Regions from separate parts of the Homo sapiens genome. Here regions 2, 3 and 4 are each linked to region 1. The links come from fine-mapping of genetic effects on gene expression. A gene starts in region 1. Each other region holds a variant in brackets. All regions are shown on one strand. Distances are between the middles of the regions. Region 1 holds the start of ZNF697 (zinc finger protein 697). Region 2 has its middle 29 kb from the start of LINC00622. Region 3 overlaps ZNF697 (zinc finger protein 697). Region 4 has its middle 13 kb from the start of LINC00622.

Region 1 (5,447 bases):
ATCAGCTGGGCCAGGATATGTACAAAAATAATTAGGGACAGGTACAGGGATGTCCAGCAAGCATGGGGTTCAACCGGACAGTCACGGAGGTAGAAGAATGTCTGTTGCATCTTCAAGGACTGGGGAGCTATTTGCTCGAAGGATGGGTAGGTAAATTGGGGTGGCACAGGTCCAGTAAAGGAGAGGGGTAGGTAGGCACTGAATTGTGAAGAATTTTAAATCCCAAAGTAAGGAGTTACTTTTGTTGATTATATTAACTCTACATAGTGTGTGGTACTGAGAAACCTGTTAAGGGGCAGGTGAAAGAAAAGAAAAAAGAAGTAGAATCTTAGATACAAAGAAAAGCCCATATGGTACTGACATAGGTTCAAGCTCCAGACCTCTTACTGACACTGTAGCTATTTTTTTCTTTCTACATAAGCAGACAAGCTCCTTCTTGCCTTAGTTTATCATCCTTACAACCAACCTTTACCCTTTCTCCTTCCCTTCACAGGACACTAGTAATTAGGCAAAAAATGTAGATTCTGAGGAAATTCAAAGAGTTTTGGTGGGGGAGGGAGAGGAAATGTGATGCAACTCCATGAGCCTTAGTCATGCTGCTGATGTGAGGTCACTATTTACCACTTCAATCCAGCCGCATCAATCCAGCCGGTTCTTCTGTCTGACTAGCATCCATTTACCCCTCTATCCCAGTAGTTCTGAAAAGCCATCTATGTGTTCCTTTGTGTAATGTAAAGGGCAGCCTGACTTCATATTTATGATCTTGTTCAATAGGATGCCATCTTATTCTCTGTTGGGCATGGCTGAACTTTTGACATCAACTTTCCCTTAACAACAACCCCCACTTCCAACACACACACACACACACACACACACACACACACACACACACGGCCAATATGTTCTAACTAGAAATCATCTAAATTCACAGAGCCTCTTCCCTTCACTTCATTATCCTCATGGCCTCATCCTAAACAACTCGGTTTTTTTTCTCGATTCCATTCTTTATCTCAGTTCAAATGCCTCATCTCTCCCAAAGAAGCTAAGGAAGAAATGTTTTGTTTCACCTCGAAAGCCATTTATATCAGGCTCAGGGCTCTCTCCATGTCCTACAGCATCATTCTTTCGACCATGAGCCTTGCATACTCCTGCCTGGCCATATAAGTGGCATTCTTAAAGGTTCATTTGGTTCCTCAAACGTATTCCACATTAAATAATATCCACATGTTGGCTTGTTGAGAGAAGAAGGTAAACAGTTGGGGGCATCAACAAAAAATCAGGTGAGGGGAGAAAGGAGAGATAGTGAGTGTGGCCCCTTAGGCATGCTGAGTTCAGTTACAACAGTCACACTTGGACTGTATTCAAAGTTGCCCACTCATCCACCACAGCTACTCAAAGACATTTAACTCGCTAGCCATTATCCAACCGCATTTACCAGACGCTCAGTCTTGAGGGAGGAGGGTAACGCAGTAGGGGATGCGGAGTATTGGTGTCATCCTACAGGTTAAGGACAAACATGCCCACTACAAGGACAGGGATACATCACCAACTTCAATTCAGCCCAGGGTTCATGTAGTAAGGGGTGGGTGATTCACTCCTGTGGGGGAGGCAGGGCGGGGGCGGTTGGGGGAGGCGGTTAGGAAAAAGGAAAATCGTGGAAAGTCCCAGAGGAAGTGGTAGTCAGTTCCCGATGCATGGCCATAATGTACATTGGCCATAAGGTACACTCAGCGCCTCTGTGTCGCTGCTCCCCCTCAACCTTTTACTCACCCACTCCTCCCAACACGCGCCTCACCCGTGCCTCCATGCACAATCCTGAGCCTCGGCATCCCCGCGAGGTGCAGGTTCCAGCTTTGCCCACCACCCCACCACCTACCTACATGGACACGTGTGGTTGGAATGCCTCCCGGGGCTAGACGGCCACCCCTCTTGGGCTGCGAGCTGCTGCCCATCTCTCCACCCACCCGTCCTTATTGTGTCATTTGCCCGGTCTGATGGCAGCCCCAAAGCCGCTCATTTGAGTGGGCTAGAATGGAGAAGAGAGGAAAAGGGAGGCACACATTTCATTCACTAGGACCCAAGATGACCTGCCGCCTCTCTCCTGCCCTTCTCGGAGCCCCCCACCCTCCCTTAGCCCCAGTGGGGCTGGAGGCACGAACAGACAAGGCAAGGGGAGCGCAGTCCGTCAAGGTCCACAGCTGCACACAAAGCCCTTCACCTTCTCCTTGCCTTCCAAGCTCCTCCCTGGGCTTGGTTTCTCCGAGGGTCTCTGATGCCCCCTTCGGTGGTCGGCGGGACGGTCCTATTCCCTCTTGCATCGCTGTCTCCTCCCTCAAGTCTCAGCCTCCTCCTCCCCGCCCCTCGCCACATACCCCTGAGGGAGCTCAGTCCTGGCTTTGGGGGCGCGAGAGCACCCCATAAGCCCGGGGCCCTGCGCCCCAGGGGAGCGGACAACGGTCCACTTTACGAGGCACAACTTCGCCCAGCCGTTCCGCCACCGCACTCGAACACACACCCCATCCCCGCAGCGGTCGGGTCTGGTCCCGATCAGCCCCATCCCCGGGAGGCGGTTGAGCCCAGCCACAGCCACGCTCCTACCTGCGAGGCGGCTGGCGCGGCGAGGAGCTAGGGCACCGAGCGCCCCGGCCCGAGCCCCGCACCGCAGCGCGTCTGCCCTTGTGCGGCGGCGGCGGCTGCAGCGGCCGCTGGGTGGCCCGCTGGCTGGCTGGTTGGCTGGCTGGCTGGCTGGCTGGCTGGCTGGCTCGCTGGCTGGCTGCCCGGCTGACTCCTCACTGGGGCTTCCTGTAGGGCTGGACAAAGGACATTTCCTGGGAGGAGCGGGAGAATGTTCCCAGCATGCCTCGATTTGTAGTTCCCGGGGACTTCCTGCCACCGCAGCAGCGGGCGCCCTGGAGGTAGCTCGGGCCAGGCTAGGACTCCGGGACAGGAGGAAAGGCGCTCGCTGCTTCTCTAAGCGCTGTGGGGAAGGGAGCGGCCGGCGGGTCTTGCCCCACGCCCCGCCCCGCGGCGCTCAAGGAGCCCGCTGTCCCGGAGCACGCGAGATCCCAGCGCTGCACTCCGAGCTCGCGGCACCGGTTGCGGGCAGCCGGTGGGACGCTGCCGCTGAGCTGTCCCATGGTTCGGGAGGGCTCTGCGGTGGGAGAGGCCTTTTCTTTAAAAACTGGGAAGTTTGTGGTGGGTTCGCTTTTTAAAAATTAATCTAAAAACACAAAATCTATCTTTTAAAATAGATTTTCTTTTTGTCTTTTACGCCGTTGACATCCTGCTGGGGGCCGATTAAAGAACTTGATTGCTCACCAGGAATTCAGGTTCCTTAAGATCTTGGCGCTTCATCTTTAAAACCATACAGAGCTGATTGTTTCCAGATCCCGACCCGGTGACATTCCTCCCTCATTGTTGACCTTGTCCCAAACATCTTTTCAAGAAAAGCAATTAAATTGAGATTGAAAATAAATTACGTAAATTAAATATTAGACGTGAAAACCTGTGTGCTGCTGAATTAGGAAAGTGCTGGACTTTCTGCGTATCTTTCCTTCATTAACCTTTAGGATTCAGCTTCTTGGTCCCATAAAACAGATGTGCTGGCCACTGTATATTGAGTGTGTGTATTTCGGGAGTGGAAGGGTGAGGAGAAGAGGACATTGGCTACAAGAGAGGAACTCTACTTCCAGCCTAGCAAGAGTCTATGATGCCCTGCACATGTTTTTGTCTATTTCTGGGACCACAGACTCAGGACCCTTAGAAAATCAAGGAAGGACCACATAGAGACTAAATGACTAAAAGCTATATTCTCTCCTGGAGCATGAGCAGAAAGTAATAAACTGAACTAGGAAAGGACAAGTTCTAGGATGCTCTAGAATGTGTTTGAAAAGTAATCAGATAGAAAAGTCTCTGGGAGGCCGGGCGCGGTGGCTCACGCCTGTAATCCCAGCACTTTGGGAGGCCGAGGCGGGCGTACTACGAGGTCAGGAGATGGAGACCATCCTGGCTAATACGGTGAAACCCCGTCTCTACTAAAAAAAAAAACACCAAAAATTAGCCGGGCGTGGTGGCGGGCACCTGTAGTCCCAGCTACTCGGGAGGCTGAGGCAGGAGACTGGAATGAACCTGGGAGGCAGACCTTGCAGTGAGCTGAGATCATGTCAGTGCACTCCAGCCTGGGCAACAAAGTGAGACTCCGTCTCAAAAAAAAAAAAGAAAGAAAGAAAGAAAAGTCTCTGGGCTTGGTGGCTCATGCCTGTAATCACAGCACTTTGGGAGGCCGAAGTGGGAGGGTCACTTGAGCCCAGGAGTTCAAGACCAGCCTGGGCAACACAGTGAGACCCTGTTTCTACGAAAAGTAAAATAAAATAAATAGCGGGTGTGGTGGCGCGTACCTGTAGTCCCAGCTACTCGGTCGTTTAAGTGGAAGGGTCGTTTGAGACTGGGAGTTTGAGGCTGCAGTGAACCGTGATTGCACTCCAGCCTGGGTGACAGATTGAGACTCTGTTTCAAAAAATAAGGTCATAATTACGTGTCACTTCCACTTGTCATTTCACATTTTAAATCCATATGATTAAAACATTTGGGTGAAGGGTTTAGCTTACATTTAAGTAAAGTTTATGCTAGAGTTCTCTTTCTCTAGAGATCCTTAACCTCACGGATAAGATGGCCTGGATTAAAATGTAGAATTGATGAGAAGCATGCAGATAGGACTGTTCACCTCCCAAAAGTTCCTGTTGTATGCCCACCCTAAAGGTCCTGCTGTATGCCCACTCTGTTGACTGTCCACCTAAATTAATTGTGCTGTGATCCTTGCATTTTCTGGACCCTACAAATTACTGCTCCTTCATATTCTCAACCTGGTAACATTCCAGTGAAACTAATCTCCCCATCTCCACCCCAAAGAATTGATTATTGTTTTGCAAATCAAGTAGCCTCTAATAGTGTTCAGTCTGAAAAACATGATATACTTGCTTGTAGCATTTAACATATAACATTGCCCATTGAAACTATTTTTTGCCTTGCTTTTAATACAACACACTCTCCTCCTTCTCCTACACTTCTAACTTGAGCTCAGAATAATTGAACTTTCACTCATTATTTCACGCCATTCCAAACCTGTCCCATCCTTTTGTTTCCAATCTCAGTTATTTTGTTACTTCAACAAAGTTTTGTTTAACATTTATTCATGCTAGTCTCCATGTCTGGAGTAGACATGTAACATTCAACAGTAAGATATTTTACTGAGTAACTACCAGCTATGTCTTACCCCCAAGAAGCCCACACTCCAGTTGAAAAGACAGATGTCACAAAATTACTTCACAGTGTTTAAGGGCTATAATGCTGCCTTATACTGGGGTTCGTGTTCTGTAAAAGTGGGGCTCTTTCCATAAGCCTTCTGTTCCAGTGAGTGGCAGGAGTGGACAGGAGTGGCCAGAGGAAGG
Region 2 (5,447 bases), 78 kb before region 1:
TGCCAGGACATGTCGGTCATCATCCACACTGCCTCTATCATATATGTCATCGGTGTCACTCACAGAGTCCATCATGAATGTCAATGTGAAAGGTACAGTAGCCTGGGGAGGAGATGAAGCAAGGTGGGGAATTAAGGATCACAAAGAAGGACAGGAAGGGAAAAGAAGTCTCTCCACTGAACACCTGCTATGCTCTGGACCAAGTGTCTTTGCTGATCACTACCAACTGGGGGAGTTCAAAGCTGCTATCTTCAGTTTTTTACATGAGGAAACCAGTGCTACAGATGGCAAGTAACTTGTCCAAGGCCCCCCAGGTAAGTAAGTAAGTAGGAGAATTAGACTTTAAACTCACCCCTGTGTGACTCCAAAGGCTGTGGACACTCTATTGTGGCTCCAGTCAAAAGTCAACTAAACTCCAACTTCAGACTCTTGATATTCAGCCACTCTTTGCCTCTATGGGACAGAATCAAACCTTCCAGGTGCCACCATAGTCATCATTTTAAACCTTGTGTGTAGGCTTATAATAATGAAATGGGAAAAATTCCCTCACCCCCCTCACCAAGCATGCAATGGGGGTGTGGCTTGCTTCTTCAGTGCCTCACTGCTGAAACCTCTATGGGAGCATACAGGCAGGCAGGCTGTGGGACTCCGACACCATGGCAGTGTCTGGGGTGAATTGTACAGCTCCTGAAGCCCCAGTGGGTGTGTGTTACATGGTGCTCTTTTAGTCTTGCTCTTTTAGTTTTGACATCTATAGGCGGCTTGTTTTAACCAGCTAAATTAGACCCTCTACCTTGTTGGAAGGTCAGAGGGCTTTCTGTATCCTGGGTTCTTGCTTTGGTTACCGGAAGAATTGGATCACACCTGGGCTTGGAGAATGAGTACAAGGTTATTTTGAGTGGAGGTAGCTCTCAGCAGCTGGGGGATGCCAGAAGGGGAGGGTTTTCCCCTGGAGTCGGTTGCTCAATGACCCAACTCTTCTCCAACCACCCCAGACAAACTCCACATCATTTTGCCCATGGGTATGTTCCTCCCAAAGTCCAGCTGCCCGTGTATTCCTTTGCTGATGTGTTCCTCTGCTGATGTGTGCCTCCACTGATGTGCCCTTCCTGACATCCAGCCCCTTCTGTCTTCTTCTGCCAATCTGCTCCTCTCAATGTCCAGCAGCTTGTGCATGTGCCTGCTAGGGTATTGGGGGGTTTTATAGGCAGAGAATGGGAGCATGGCAGGCCAGGGTGGTCTTGGGAAATGCAACATTTGGGCAGAAAATGCTTGTCCTCATCTAGGTCCCTGAGGGTGCAGCCCTAGCCAGAAACCACACCCTCCTTCACCCAGCACTTCCCTTCCCCGCTCTCATATCATTTAAAGGGACCACACTCTTCCCTTCCCAGCACTCCCATATCAAGAACATTCAAAGCCCTCCTGCCCACCTCAAAGAAGTTCTCTTGAGAGAACTAGCAAAGCTGGTTCTCAGAGGTCTGTCAGGACAGAATTATCCAGCACATGCTTTCTCACAATATTTTCTTAACAAAAAGAGTTTCCCAGTATGCAGAATATGATCTCTTCAGCTCACCAAAGGGCCTGCTATTACAGAACCATTTCAAACTAGGTGCCCAAAGTGCACCTTCATTCAATCCTCGTCCCTTAAAAGCTTGGTGGTCTTTCCGAATTGCAGCTTCCCAAACTACTTTAAATTCAGACACATTCCCTTAAGGAATCTCGTCATGCAGTCTCACCCTCTGATTCCCAGAGTCCAGTCTCTTCAGCACCATAGCACCCAACCACAGGCCTGGCCCTCCACATTCAGTCTACTCTGATGCCTTTTCTCATGCAACTAATTGCTTTTGAGTCTCCAGTACCAAAAAAAAAAGAGAAGAAAGAAAGAAAGAAAGAAAGAAAGAAAGAAAGAAAGAAAGAAAGAAAGAAAGAAGAAAGAGAAAGAAAGGAAAGAAGGAAGGAAGGAAAGAAGGAAGGAAGGAAGGAAGAAAGAAAGAAAGAAAGAGAGGAAGGAAGGAAACAGAAAGAAAAAAACCTTTCCAGTTTCTACTCGCTCATTTCTTTCAGTACCCCTACAGTGCAAGGAGGGTGTTAAGAGTAACCAGTTTTTCATTTGAATTGTTAACTCTCCGCAGCTCCCAACAACAAGAAATGTGAAATGACAGGGGAAGTGTTAGAGGCATCTGTTTCCTAACCATTATCACTCCAAG[G/A]CTTAGAAAATATTTCACAATGTTGGTCATTTCCCCCTTGAAGGTAAACTACTTCCGCATTTTCTCTGCCACCAGATTAATTGTTGAAAACATGAGGCTGTCTCTCCAGAAACTCAAATTCCACAGAGACTTTAAACAGGGCCAAGAATAAAAAAATAAGAAAAAATAATAATCCTTTGCCTAGGAAATTCCTTCCTTCTTCAAGGGAAGGCACTCCGAACACCTCCATGAGCTTCGCTTCCACACAGCTCAGGGGAGGCGGCAAGGTCCTCCCAGTACAGGTGTTACCAGCAGAGGGCACACTCCTCTCCCCAGTCCTCCACCAGGCTCCACAGGAAACGCCAGGGCAGGGTTTAAAGGAAGGTTTATCACCCCGACTTTACATAACCAGGTAAACAGAGTCACAGCCAGAATTGGAAGCAGCTTTCCCAGGGAATGCACAATCAGGAAAAGAGTGTGGGTTTCCAGCATCTCCCCACAAGCCACTGTTCGCTCAATGACTCCAGGAATGGTCCTGGTGACAAAGTTTTACCAGTCCACTCAAAATGAGAAAAATACCAGCAATTATATGTATATTTAAGAGTACATTTCAGAGTGTATATTGCTTATATACAATTGTGTATGGGTGTGTGTGTGACATAAATTCTTCCAGTGCCCTTTTCTGCCTAAGGACTGGGACTGTCCATATTCTCAGAGTATATCTTCCTGATTTGTTAGTTTTTCAATAATCTGCCATTAATGGTATTGATGTCACATTGTAATTTTTCAACATCATTACTTGACAGAATATAAAGTGATAATTCTAGGTCCTTTGCCAAAATTACAGTATATACACACACACACACAGACACACACATCCATATACCCAAAAGTCTAGAAATTCTTGCTCCCCAGAACCCACATGTCAGTTTCTTTTCATTTTGGTGTTTTTCCTATGGCTGTAGCATGGCCCAGTCTCAGTCAGAGTCACATAAGAATATACCCCGAGTCTGTTATAACCACTGCACTTGGGAATAAATATCTATGCACGTTGTTGGGGCCCCTTAGTTATATTTCCTGACACTGACAGAATGCTTTTCGTAGGTAGGTACCCAGCTTCTGTTGGAGGCCTGTGTCCAAGCTACAGTGCCAATCTTCATCTACACCAGTACCCTAGAGGTAGCCAGGCCCAATTCCTACAAGGAAATCATTCAGAACGGTCATGAAGAAGAGCCTCTGGAAAACACATGGTACGCTCCATACCCACACAGCAAAAAGCTTGCTGAGAAGGCTGTGCTGGCGGCTAATGGGCTGACTCTGAAAAACGGTGGCACCTTGTACACTTGTGCCGTAAGACCAATGTTTATCTATGGGGAAGGAAGCCCAATCCTTTCTGCCGGTATAAATGAGGCCCTAAACAACCATGGAATCCTGTCAAGTTTCAGCAAGTTCTCCAGAGTCAACCCAGTCTATGTTGGCAACATAGCCTGGGCCCACATTCTGGCCTTGAGGGCCCTGCGGGAGCCCAAGAAGGCCCCAAGTGTCCGAGGACAGTTCTACTATATCTCAGATGACACGCCTCACCAAAGCTATGATAACCTTAGTTACACCTTGAGCAAAGAGTTCGGCCTCTGCCTTGATTCCAGTTGGAGCCTGCCTTTATCCCTGACGTACTGGATTGGCTTCCTGCTGGAAATAGTGAGCTTCCTGCCGAGGCCAGTTTACACCTGTCGACCGCCCTTCAACCACCACAGAGTGACATTGTCAAATAGCGTGTTCACCTTCTCTTACAAGAAGGCTCAGCAAGATCTGGCATATAAGTCACTTTACAGCTGGGAGGAAGCCAAGCAGAAAACCATGGAGTGGGTTGGTTCCCTTGTGGACTGGCACAAGGAGACCCTGAAGTCCAAGACTCAGTGATCGAAGGATGACAGAGATGTGCATGTGGGTATTGTTAGGAGATGTCGTCAAGCTCCATCCTCCTGGCTTCATACAGGTGACAAGGGCAAAAGTCCAGGTCCTGCTGCCTCCCTTTCACATAATAGCCAACTTATTGTCTTCCTCATGTCATCAAAACCTGCCCAGTCCCTGGCCCAACCAGAAGCTTTTTGTCCTAATCATATACCAGAGGAAAGACAATGTGATTTGCTTTTTCCATATCTCAGTGGCTGATTCCGAACAATTGTAGTCTCTTCTAACTTGAGGTCATTTTTAACTACTAGAGCTCCATTTCTACTCTTAAATGAGAAAGGATTTCTTTTCTTTTAAATCTCCTATTTCTTCACGCAGTCCAATGTAAAGAGCAATAAATGTTTTAATCCTTAACCTGGAGGGAGGTGTAGTTTCTGTTAATACCTAGTTCCCTCCTTTTCTTTTCATTTCCAGGTATCACCATCTTTTACCTAGGAGAGTAGCATGGAGCTGGGGAAGGGGGGTTGGCAGAGTAGTGGGAGGATCTGGAAGGGCGATGAAGACTGAATAAGCTCTACTATGTTTCAGGCATCTACAACATGACCTACATGTGACATATATTCCCTCACTCAATACTTATCAGAAACCTATCACGTGGGGGTGACTATTCCCATTTTACCCTTAAGGAAACTTGTTCACCATCACACTAATGATTAGTGGCTAGGCCTGCTACCAGGAAGTTGGTCTTGAAAGACTTTATCTTTCCCTAGAATCATGCAGCCTGAACTGGTCTTATCAGTGGTACAGCAGAGCACTGGAGCATGGGATGCTGATACTTGGGAGAGCCCCAGCTTTTTGGGGTTACCTCTTTCTTGCCCAATCTGGTACAGGGGAATCTCTAGAACCAAGGATAATCCCTGAGGGGCATCTGAAAGGGTTTGCATGCCTTTCCTAATGGGCCTGAGCAGGGCAGAGAGAAACAAAAATGCATCAGGCCTCCACCCGCTTCAGTGTCAATTTATTTGAAGGTCTCTAGAACACTCCTGGCTATATGTGTGTTGGCCATTCTGATCATACATAACCCTGCATTTCACCCTTTCAAATCACACAATGAGCCACACCATGGGTTCCTGGACAAGTACAAAAAACAAGTGTGAACTTCCTCCAAAATATACCTTCTACTCAGCCCAAAATTAGAAGTCTACTATCCCACATCCCCAGATTTAACTGTCTCTCTCTTCTTTCTCCTTCTCTTCTCTAAATCATATCCTTTCTTCCTTTATTCTTCCATATCCTTAGCCTCTTTCTTCTCTCCATCTCCTCTTTAATCACTGGTTCTCTCATTCTTCT
Region 3 (5,447 bases), 26 kb before region 1:
GGTCCTACAGAGTTCTCAACCCTGTTTGCTCATTAAAATCACCTGGGGAGTTTCTATAAAACTACAGGAACTTAGGCCTCACTCCAATTAATTGCTCTCTTCATTTAAAAGGCAAACAATCCAAAAAGCTCTCCAAGGTTAAAAAAATCTGTAGCTTAAACTAATCAAACCTCAAGAATTCCAGGTTGACCAGGTACAGTTTTTCTAATTGGAATGTGGGCAGAGGCCCACTCACGGCAAATTCAGGGTGAAGTAGCACAGATAATATGCAAATGTGCCTGTATGGGTATGACTGTATTCTAATGCAACTTTATGTACAAAAATATGCAGGGCAGATTTAGTAGTTTGTCAACCCTTGTTCTACAAGAACATAGCTTCCATAGATAGAGCTGAGTGACATTTAATGTGTGGCAAAGAAGAATGACATGGTAAAAGACTGATATGGATTTAATGACAAATATTCCATATTGGTTGCTGAACACCAGAATGCTGTCCAAGGAACCATCGTTAAATAAAACAACCTGAAAATAAGGCAAATCTCACGTATACAAGCACACTCACACGAAACCTGTTACTTTTAGGATCATTAAATTATTCACTATTTTAACAAACAGCTGTAAAATAACATTACAGTGAAGAAAAATGTGCACAAACTTCAGAAACACAGTTTAGATTGTCTATGAACACAGGTCCTTAATTTGTATTTTTTCACATATGTACAGTCTCTTGATTGTAAAGAGACCACATGGCTCAAGGGGTTAACTTCTCATTTTCTCCTTCCAACTCGGAGCTCAAGATTTAATCAAAACCATTTAGCCTATTTAAATTGCTCCAGGTTTTGCTTAGTAAAGGGCAGCAGAGGAAGACTGCTCTTCATCAAATTCTCCAGGAAACAAATAATACACTTGCTTCCACCATCATTAATGAGTTGGTGGAAAAAGTCCTCAGATTAACGTTTTCAAGGGTGAACCGCAGTTAGCAGGGTTTGCCGAAGAAATATTATTCTAAAACTAGATAGAAGAAACAAACAACCTCCTGAATGCATTTAACCTCACTTAATGCAGGTAAGTTCCCTGAAGAATTGTAAGAAAAAATGGAATCACATTTTAAATGCACCAATAGAGTCGGGTGTTGGTAGTTGGATTGTTTTCTTCTGCTAAGAATGTGCTCATAGAAGGGATATCAACGTAGCAGCTGACTTTTTTATCCATGGTAATAGAAATAATGAGAGAGGTAAATGAAGTCCAAAGATTCCCACTGCCACTAAACTATTTTACATTAGCTTCACTCTCCACTCCCTGTTGAACCCATTCTCTAAAGTTGCTGATATGTAGTATATTTGATGCAGACGAGACCAGGCATAGCAATGGCAGCAAAAAAGCAAAAAAAAAGCGGATAATCAATCCATGAATAATCAAAAGTTGGATGAGATTTCATAGGCACAGACTTGAGAAAACTTAAAACAGCTGGAAGAGGTAGATGTACATGGAAAGAAACCCACAAAGCAGTAAGATTACCTAGAAATTGGCTATATTATTTTCAGGTGGGTCTAATATGTTTAGTATTCAGATTACAAATCAGAATTCAAAACGGACACTTGTTTGCTTGTATTACTCCTGACTAGAAGAAAATGAGAATTAATGTCTTTCAAAACTGTCTGTAGTTTGAAAACCTATTTGCATTTGTGAATAACAATAAACTGATTAAGAGGGCAAGATCAACAGGCATTATACAAGCCCAGAATTATCAGGATTTTTAAGTGTTTTTATAACCACAAAAACATGCTTTCCTACAGTCCCCAAAGAGGTTCTTTACTAGAATACAACTGATCAAGTATAAATTACTAGCATCCACAGAAACTTTGCTAAAAGTGTAAAAACAATCTCGTAGCTTTTTTTCCCCCTTCCACTGTGTCTGATATTTTGTGAAGATGCTTCCATGAAATGTGTAGGGTAACAATCACTAGAGAAGAAAACAATACTGCTTTCCACAACTCTAACTTCTAAAGGCTAACCTAGCACAGGGATCTTCAGCATAAGTAACTGAAATCTATACAAGAGTCATCTAACTACAGCCCCTTACTAGAAATGGAACATAGCTAGGATACCCTAATTAGGCGACAAAGACCAGCTTTGTCAATAAGGACATGTTTGGCCCTTCTAGGCTAGCCTTAAGTTTTTCATCAAGCATAAGAATTTTCAGTGTCCTTAATTTTATTATATAAATCATGACAAGTAAGTCTTCCTAGCAGCTGAGCTGGAGAATGCAAAAGGTCAGGCTACAATTATTCACACTGTCCTCAGCCTCTCTTCAGGACAGCCTGCACACTCCTGTTCCCAGGCCTTCCCTAAGACAGCGGTCATAATACTGATCTAACTCACAATGATGTGAGAAACAGCTAACAATTATTAAAAAGCATAAAGCACTTTGCAAATATCAAAGTGCTATTTTGGCATCTATATAACAACCAGAAAACATTCATTGTTTGTGCTATTTGGCAATTTTGCATTTACACCTCTCCCTGACTGGGCTCTTCTGGGTAAAGCCTTGAGATTTCTACTGTGCCTCCACGCGCAGGCAAAAGACATTCTTACTTAGACTAGATCCCTCGTCAATATGCATGGAAGTGGGGGTTAGTGGAGGTCACTAACAAATGCAAAGTGAAGGCAAATGAGACCAAGGAGTCT[C/T]GCATCCCAAAAAAGTGAACACTTTCTTGGATTTCTCACATAAAGGCCAGCAAAACTCTGAGCTAGTTGACTTTTTAGCAGGTCACTGGGCAACTGTTGGTCTAAAGTTCACTTGAAACACCTACATCAAGGTGAGGTGGGAAAAGGAAAGTCACACATAGCTGTGATTGTTCCTTTTCCCTGCACTTAAAACACCACAGTTGAGACCTGAAAGAAATACTGGGTGTGGCACACACCTGGGATGGGCGAGGGCGGGGGAGGGGGGTCATCCAGGTAAACCACCTTGACCCAGCATGAAGCTAGAGTATTTTCAAGGAAGTAGCAAAGAACCCGGGACAGAATCAGGATTTCCCACATCAGAGAACCAGTTATAAATGAATTTCTAAACCCCAGACATTGCCCCTTGAAATGAGTGTGGCGTTTTTCAGCCCACTTCCCCTTGGATGCCTCAAAATAGCAGCTAACTGTGGCTCAGAGAAAGGAAAAGTACATTAAATATCCTGTCCTATGTGACTGACAAGGTTCCCCTACTTTTTGTGAGACAACAGGTGATGTGTGGAGATCGGGCAAACTCTTGGTGGGACCAAGATAGAATCACTTATACTTGGTTTTATTTCGCCCCATAACCCTCATTTAAACCCTCTCCCCGCAACCTTCTACAGGCCATCGCGGCCTACCCTAGTCTATTGCCCGCCATCCTGTTCCCACCCCAGCCCACGAACTGCCCTTCCTCAAAGTGCCTGGTCCTCCAAGCTCTTCACCCCCTACAGCGTGTATTTAAGGAAGTCATCACCCCAAGCGCATCTCCTGAACAATTCTTCCGTGGAGAGGAGGCAAGTATAGCACCGGGAAAGACCAACTTACTCAACACTCCTCCCACTTCAGGAAACCCCAAACACCAAAGGCTCCCCAGTCACTCTCAGATTGTCCCTCCCGCCCCTTCCCCACTTCCTTCCCCTGGGTCAGTCCCAGGATATCTACCCCCCACAGGCTCCCCAGACGGCAGCCTCCCGCGGACCCAGCCCCTAACACAGGTGCAGCTTCTGGTGCTGCGCGAGGTGCGTTTTATAGCGGAAGCCTTTGCCGCAGCCCGCACACTTGTGCGGCTTGTTGCCCGTGTGGATGCGGCGGTGGCGGATCAGGTGGGAGCTCTGGATAAAGCTCTTGCCGCACTCGATGCACGTGTAGGGCTTCTCGCCCGTGTGCGTGCGCTGGTGCTGCGTGAGCGTGGAGAAGTCGCTGAAGCGCTTCTCGCACTGGCCACAGCGGAAGGGCTTCTCGCCGGTGTGCACGCGCAGGTGGTTCACCAGGTGCGAGTTACGCCCGAAGCCCTTCCCGCACTCGCGGCACACGTAGGGCCGCTCACCCGAGTGCGTGCGCTTGTGCGTGAAGAGGTGCGAGCTGACGCTGAAGGTCTCGCCGCACTCGGAGCACATGTAGGGCTTCTCGCCCGTGTGCACGCGCTGGTGCTTCACCAAGTCCGAGCGCCAGCTGAAGCGCTTGCCGCACTCGCCACAGCCGTGCGGCTTCTCGCCCGTGTGGATGCGCTGGTGGTTGGCCAGGTGCGAACGGCGCACGAAGCCCTTGCCGCACTCCCCGCAGGCGAAGGGCCGCAGCGCCGCCGCCCCCGCGCCGCTGGCCGCCGCGTGCGCGCGCCGGTGGCTCAACAGATGCGAGCTGAGGCTGAAGGCCTCGCCGCACTCGGGGCACGGGTAGGGCTTCTCGCCCGTGTGCAGGCGCCGGTGCTTGAGCAGGTCGGCGCGCCAGCTGAAGCTCTTGCCGCAGTCGGCGCACAGGTTGGGCCGCTCGCCCGTGTGCAGGCGCAGGTGGTTGGTCAGGTAGGTGTTGCGGCTGAAGCCCTTGCCGCACTCCCCGCAGCGGAAGGGCTTTTCGCGCGGGGGCCGGGCCAGCGGGGGCCCGGCCCCGAAGCCCCCCGCCACACCCACCCCCATCATGCCCACCATCGCGTCGCACTCGCCCGCCAGGCCGAAGGGCTCCAGGCTGGCGGCGGCAGCGGCCTCAGCCAGGCGGTGAATGCGCTGGTGCTGCAGGAAGGCGGCGCCAGGACTGAAGCTCTCCCCGCAGTCGGGGCAGATGGTGGGCGCGTCCATGATGCTGGCCACCAGGCTATCCAGCTCCCCGAGGTCCACGGCCATGGGGTGGTGGAGCCGGTGGAAGCGGCGGTGGGCGGGCTTGTCACCTCGGTGCCGACTCCCCAGGGAGAGATGTCGCCTCCAGGGAAGTACGGGAGGGGCCGGCTGCTCCTCTTCCTCCTCCAGCCGGTTCTCCCCAGCACTCTCGTCGTCGTCCTCCCGGAGGCTCCGGGATATGCTGTCAGACTCAGACAGTCCTGGGAACATCGCCATGTCAGCTACACCGGATTGGTCATCCTCTTCCCCACGGACAGAAACGCCTTCTTCCTCACTCAGCTGCCCCTCTGCAACAGAAAAAGGTGGCAGTGGGGGATTACTATACTTGGCATTCAAAAGATAAGCCCAGAGGAAACCTCAGTAATAAAACTGTGATCCCCTCCCTCAGGCACTCTGGATCCCTGCCCCTCCAAGACCCCCTGAGAGTTTAGCCTCTCTCAACTGGATCCTCCAGGGAAAGGCCTAAAGGAGAGTGCACTCATTGCCCCCTCTGCCCACCAGTTCTTCAGGCAGCCTCCTCGGGCCCAGGCCCCCCTAGCTGGACCCGAGGCACTGCCTAGCAGAGCCATCTGAAGGCCTGACTGCCTGTGTTCAGGATATTCAAGTCTGT
Region 4 (5,447 bases), 62 kb before region 1:
ACATCTACCTAGGCCAGTGCACGGCATTCCTTCTGCTTAGAGGGTGCCCAGCTCTCCTGCCAGCACATCCTTCCCAGCTCCTTATTCACCATCCAAAGCATCTCTTTTATAGCCTCTGTGCTTTGTGCATATCTAGTTGCACTGCCATTAATTTTTTATTTATATATCCTGTCCCCCACCCCTACACTGCCATGTCCTGAGGACAGTAACTCACCATGTCATCTCTCTGTCCCCAGTGACTGACACAAAATAGACACATGGGCTGATGGAGAGATAGATGGATGCACGGATAGAAAGATGAAACACCAACAAACTCAAATGTTAGGACGGAGAGAGGAGGGGATGGGGAGTCAGGGAGCACAATGCTTTCAATGACAAAGCAAGAGAGAATTCAAAGACAAATTTTCAGGGTGTCAATGAACCTGAAGAAGCTCGATCATCATGATGAGAGCTGGAAAAGAGATAAGCCACATAGTGGGTATGGTGCTGAGAATGAACTCATTTGTGTGATAGAAAGAGAGAGTGGGGTTGTGAGAGGCCCATGAGCAGGGAAAGGGAAAGGCTGTTGAAGGCGAAGCCCAGCTGCCAAGGTTATAAAGGGACTGGGAATTGGATCCAAAACCTGAAATGGTGCAAGGCCCAGAGCATTTTTATACTACAAAAAAAAGGAAAAACTGCTTTTGAAAAATGAATTCAGAAGAGAATCTCCCACTCTTAGTTGACTCAAGTGAGGACCACGCAACCTCTCTGTCTACATGTGCTTCTTAAGACATCAGGGGACTCTGGTGGAAAATTGAGGGGCGTTCTTTTTCTTTATCTTGGCCCAAGATCCCACCCAATGGTAATGAGCAGGGAATGGAGTCGGTGATCTGAGGCATGAAAGAGGTTCATTATGAGGAAGTGGAGAGGGAAGGCTGGATGAAAAGAAAGTGGCTTAGCCACTCTGTCCCCAAAGGCAGGGAGCACTGAGGTCAGTTGCAGACTCCAAAACAGTCAGTAATCTGTTCTGGAAACCTGAAGTTCCTTATTGAAGAGCGCAATCTTTCCTCAAGAAATGGAAGAACCAGCACTGATGCAGTCAGCCCTTCTTCCAAAACAGGTACTGGCGACAGAGAGGTGGGCGTGATATGGGTTCCGGGCCTATTGTCATCTTAGCATGAACGCTGGCCACTAAAGTAGGAATACCCTTCTCATGAGCCTGGCACTAACTCCCTCCTGCACTAGCTGGAGTCTGTCAAATCCCTGGTGTAGCTCTGAGCAGAGCAGCTCTCTGGGCACAAGGCCGGTGAGGTCACCCAGGGCCTGTGCTTGGCTTAAGGGGCTGCCATGGGACCCCACATTTCATTTTGCACTGATCCCTGTAAAATACACAGGCAGTCCTGACTGAGAGAACTTCTTTCAGCAGCAGGCAAAACACCTATTGCTGACCTAGCATGGTTAAATAGAAAAGGCTTCCTGACTCCTACAGGACAGATCAATGTCTTTGTGGAGTTCAGATTTTAGAGCAAAGAAAGTTTCATCAGGCATGGTAGGGCACACCTGTATTCCCAGCTACTGGGAGGCTGAGGGGAAAGATCACTTGAATCCAGGAATTCAACATCAGACAAGACTTCATCTCTAAAATTTTTATTAAATTGAAGTTAAAGAGGGATCTAGAGACCATTACTCCAGCTTTTAACTGTGGGTTCCTTTCCTGCTTTCATTTTACTGATGAGAAAACTGAGGCCTGGGAAGTGAGATGACCTTTCCAACGTTCACTTAGACAACTGTCTGTAATGGTGACCAATGATTTGCTACCTTTGAGGTAAAATATTTATTAAGGGAAAAAAAACTGGGATGAGAGACATTTGGAAACAGGGCAGAGGGTAGGTTTAATGAGAAGTCTGCTGTCTAAACCATCTATCTTGCCTATATAACCCAACCTCTCATCTGAACATCAGCTTGTGGACGTGGATGTTGCATAAATGGAGACAGGCAGGTGCTTCATGGTAAAGAAATGAAAGTAGTTGGGGGTGAGAGGGACTAAGGAAAGGGGTCAAGGAGGGCAAAAAACAAGCGAGTATTCTTTTGTTTTAGAAGAAGAATATTTTTGCAAATAAGAGTGAAGAGTGAAAATCCTGGGTTCTGATTTCAATTTTGTCATCGAAGTTAAGCAAATCTCTTCACCTTCCTGGGTCTGTTTTCTTTCCTACAAAATGAAGGTTATGGCTCATTTCTAAGGTCTTTTGCCAGTGACATTGGGCTGCAAAAGTGTAAGATGATTTGCATCCTCTGGCACCTGCACACTTCTGCCACTAAACTTCGTAATAACATAAGCCTCCTTGTGCTTATTTGTTTGTGTGAAGCCAAAGCTATTTGAGAAAGTGGTTTCCCAGTCATTCGTGGCTCTAGTGGCACATGGCACCTCACTGGAAAAGGGGCGTCATACCTCTCATAGGGTTGTAAAGGATCAAGAAGTGGGCCAAGTAGGAACCGATTCCCTCCTTCCCTGATATCTGATGACCACTGAACTGCAGAACTTAATGCTGACTTAAATACAGCCTTTTGTTTTGGCATTAAGCTATAGATGTTTCCCAAGAAGGTTTTAAAACTCTTAGACAATCACTAGAAATTAAAATGGGCAGGACCAATAGAGTCAGTGCCTACTGAAAAGGAATCAGAAACCCAGAAAAGTCATGCCTTGCTCAAGTCCACTGCCAGTTAATGCCAAAGCTCTGCCCTGCTCACTCCACACACAGCACACCCTCAAAGGAGGAGCAGAACTAGTTCCTTCTTTCTTCCTGTTCTCAGGAAAGGGAGGCCATGCCTTCTCACTTCCTCTTCACCCTGCCCTAGGAGCTGGAAATCCCAGA[G/A]GACAGAGTCCATATGCACTGCAACTGCCTCTCTCCTCCTTCTGGGATCCCAGGAGCTATGATACAAGACTTTAGGATGCCCCTCAGCAGCCCCTTCTCTGCAGCACTGAGCACGACCACCTTGTAACCACCTTGCTTCCTAACATTCACACAAGCCCGTGAATCTTACAAGAGCCTTCATGTTTGTCATTTTGTTTGATTTGATTTTCCCACACCTCATACCTGCATCTTTCCACTGCACAGATGAGAGCAAGATCAAGAATACCTATAGGGCTTGGTCTAGGCTGCAGCAGCATTGAACAGTGGCTGTATCAGTCCAGTGAATCTCAGGCTGTGAAGTCATGTCTGTGATTTCTACCTACTCTATTAACTTCAACACAGAAAGCAGTAGAGCTGCTTCAGGTGAAACCTTGAGGTGACCCTCATTTCAGACATTCACTAATGCTACCCCTAACAAGAGAAATGTCTAGCCAGATACTTTTCCAGCCCCTTGACAAAGTGAATTAGCTTTTCCAAGGTCACACACTGTCCCTTCCCTCACCCAACAAAGCCAGGTACAGTCGACATTGCCTGATTTGCAGCAGTGGTGGAAACTCTGACTTATAGTTGCAAAGTCCTTGGCAGAGAATCTGCTTAACTCTGAGCCTTTGTTGAATGTACCGTCTTGCCCTAGCATAACATGTGAAGCCTTGACATGAAGTTCCCCCCTGTCCACCTCCCATCCCTTGCAGCCCCAGGGGCCAAATCCTTAAAGTCATACATACAGTTGGCAAAATAATTCACCCCAAGCAGGTTGGACAGGCAGGAAACAAAATCAGCCTTCACCTTCGCCCTTAAATGGTGTTGGAATGTGTAAGCATCTCTACCTCTCTCATATCTGTCTCCCCAGCATTGAGCACTATGCCTGGAACATGCCACTCAGCTGAGGGGTGAACTTCTCAGGGTCTCTGCTCTTAATGAGTCACAGCCTTGGGGTCTGGGGAAGGCCAGTCATACACAGATGGTATCAGAACACCCAGGCAGAACCACTCCCTACTTCAGCCCTTGATGCTTTCAGAAAAGCATCTCAGTGGAGTGTCTTCAGTGAATAAAAAGAATGCATGGAACTGCTTCCAGTGATTCCCTAGTCTCTAGAAACAGGGGCCTGTCAATTCTTTCACTTGTGTTGAACATCTTCAACACATCTGGAATGCCAGCTTGAACACCGCACAAACACTGATACCTTTTTCAAACTTCTTAAACAGAGGGAAACATGGTATATGGAACAACTTGCCACCCACCTCACTGGCTTCCAAAGCTAAGCAATCCCGGCTGCCGGATTGAGGTAGGGCACCCACTGGATGCAGAGAGCACTGAGAAAATGGCCTGGATCTCATGGCAGCAGCTGGAAATTGAAACCCATTGGAATGTGCTTTGGGTTAGTGAACATGACCTTGAAACCACAGTCTGGCAGCAGAAAACTGCAGGGCACTTGTGGCTGTGACAATGAGACCGAGGAGCAAAGACTAGACAATTCATGCTGGAGACTGGCCAAGTATGCTCCTCCCCTCCCACCAGGGGCAGAGAGGATGGAAATTATGTGATTGCCAAGGGCAGCTGAGAAAACAAGTCATGCCTGGGGTTTTGCTTTGTTAAGAGAGCTGAGTTGGGGGAATAAAGATCTGAGAGAAGCAGAAGAAGGCTGACTCTGAGTGGTGAAGACGGTGAAGGCCAGCAGCAGCCTTCCACACCTATTCCATTGTCATCTGATGGACAGCCAAGACAGGCACTTTTCCTGGCTCTTACTTATGATATTGTCTTCACTATTTGGAGCAGTTGTGTGAAAGGTGGCCTACCAGGAGCAGACAAAGCCTGATGTACCTTGCACTGCCCTTTGCCTCCATAATTCTGGTGAAGGAGAGGATTTGAGCCTTATGTATTATACTTACTGTAATCCCCAAGAAAGAAAGGGGGTCCCTAATTGGTCCTAAAGAGTTCTCACCCTCTTTGCCCATTAAAATCACCCAGGGAGTTTCTACAAAATTACAGGTACTTAGGCCTCATTTCAAGTAAGTGCTCTCTACATTTAAAAGACAAACAGAAAAGCTCTCCAAGGTTAAGAAAATCTATTGCTTAAACTAATCAAACCTCAAAAATTCCATGGCAATCAGGTACAGTTTCTTTAATTGGAATGTGGGCAGAGGCTCACTCACATCAAAGATAGAGATAGTTGAGCATGAAGGTTCACGACTATAGTCTCAGCACTCTGGGTGGCCGAGCAGGAGGATCACTGGAGCCTAGGATTTGAAGACCACCCTGGGCAACATAGGGAGACCCCATCTCTACAGAATTAAAAATTTGTTAAAAGTCTAGCCAGGCATGGTGGTGCATACCTGTGGTCCTAGACACTCCCGAGACTGAGGTAGGAGAATCTCTTGGGCTGGGAAGTTGAAGATCGCACCACTGCACAACAGTACTCTGGGTAACAGAGCAAGACCCTGCCTCATAAAAACAAACAAAAAAAGAAGGTTAGAGAAAAAAAAGTCTCTCTCTAAATGAATAGCTTCAGCATTGGCTTTTCCAATGTCTCTCTTGCTGCTTACCAAACTGTGTTCT

Evidence for each region. PIP is the estimated chance that this variant, and not a neighbour inherited with it, causes the effect.
Region 2: its variant is fine-mapped to the expression of ZNF697 in whole blood (INTERVAL, PIP above 0.99). The same link has a PIP of 0.9 or more in neutrophils.
Region 3: its variant is fine-mapped to the expression of ZNF697 in cerebellar hemisphere (GTEx, PIP above 0.99).
Region 4: its variant is fine-mapped to the expression of ZNF697 in whole blood (TOPMed, PIP 0.98).

The regions. Positions count from the first base shown.
Region 1 is chr1:119,645,473-119,650,919 of GRCh38, forward strand. ZNF697 (zinc finger protein 697) reads right to left here and starts at 2,794. Exons shown (of 3, transcript NM_001080470.2): 1 at 2,219-2,794. It overlaps LOC124904389 (a long non-coding RNA gene), which reads left to right and starts at 2,844. Exons shown (of 2, transcript XR_007066506.1): 1 at 2,844-2,915; 2 at 3,252-3,504. RefSeq lists silencers at 2,211-2,374, 2,672-2,731 and enhancers at 2,790-3,630, 2,802-2,871.
Region 2 is chr1:119,567,962-119,573,408 of GRCh38, forward strand. It overlaps the pseudogene HSD3BP4. Among named protein-coding and RNA genes, the nearest start is that of LINC00622, 29 kb to the right of the region's middle. The variant G/A (reference allele first, on the strand shown) is at 2,208.
Region 3 is chr1:119,618,993-119,624,439 of GRCh38, forward strand. ZNF697 (zinc finger protein 697) reads right to left here. Exons shown (of 3, transcript NM_001080470.2): 3 at 385-5,124. The coding sequence ends at 3,713. Among named protein-coding and RNA genes, the nearest start is that of LINC00622, 22 kb to the left of the region's middle. The variant C/T (reference allele first, on the strand shown) is at 2,688.
Region 4 is chr1:119,583,189-119,588,635 of GRCh38, forward strand. No RefSeq gene overlaps it. Among named protein-coding and RNA genes, the nearest start is that of LINC00622, 13 kb to the right of the region's middle. The variant G/A (reference allele first, on the strand shown) is at 2,853.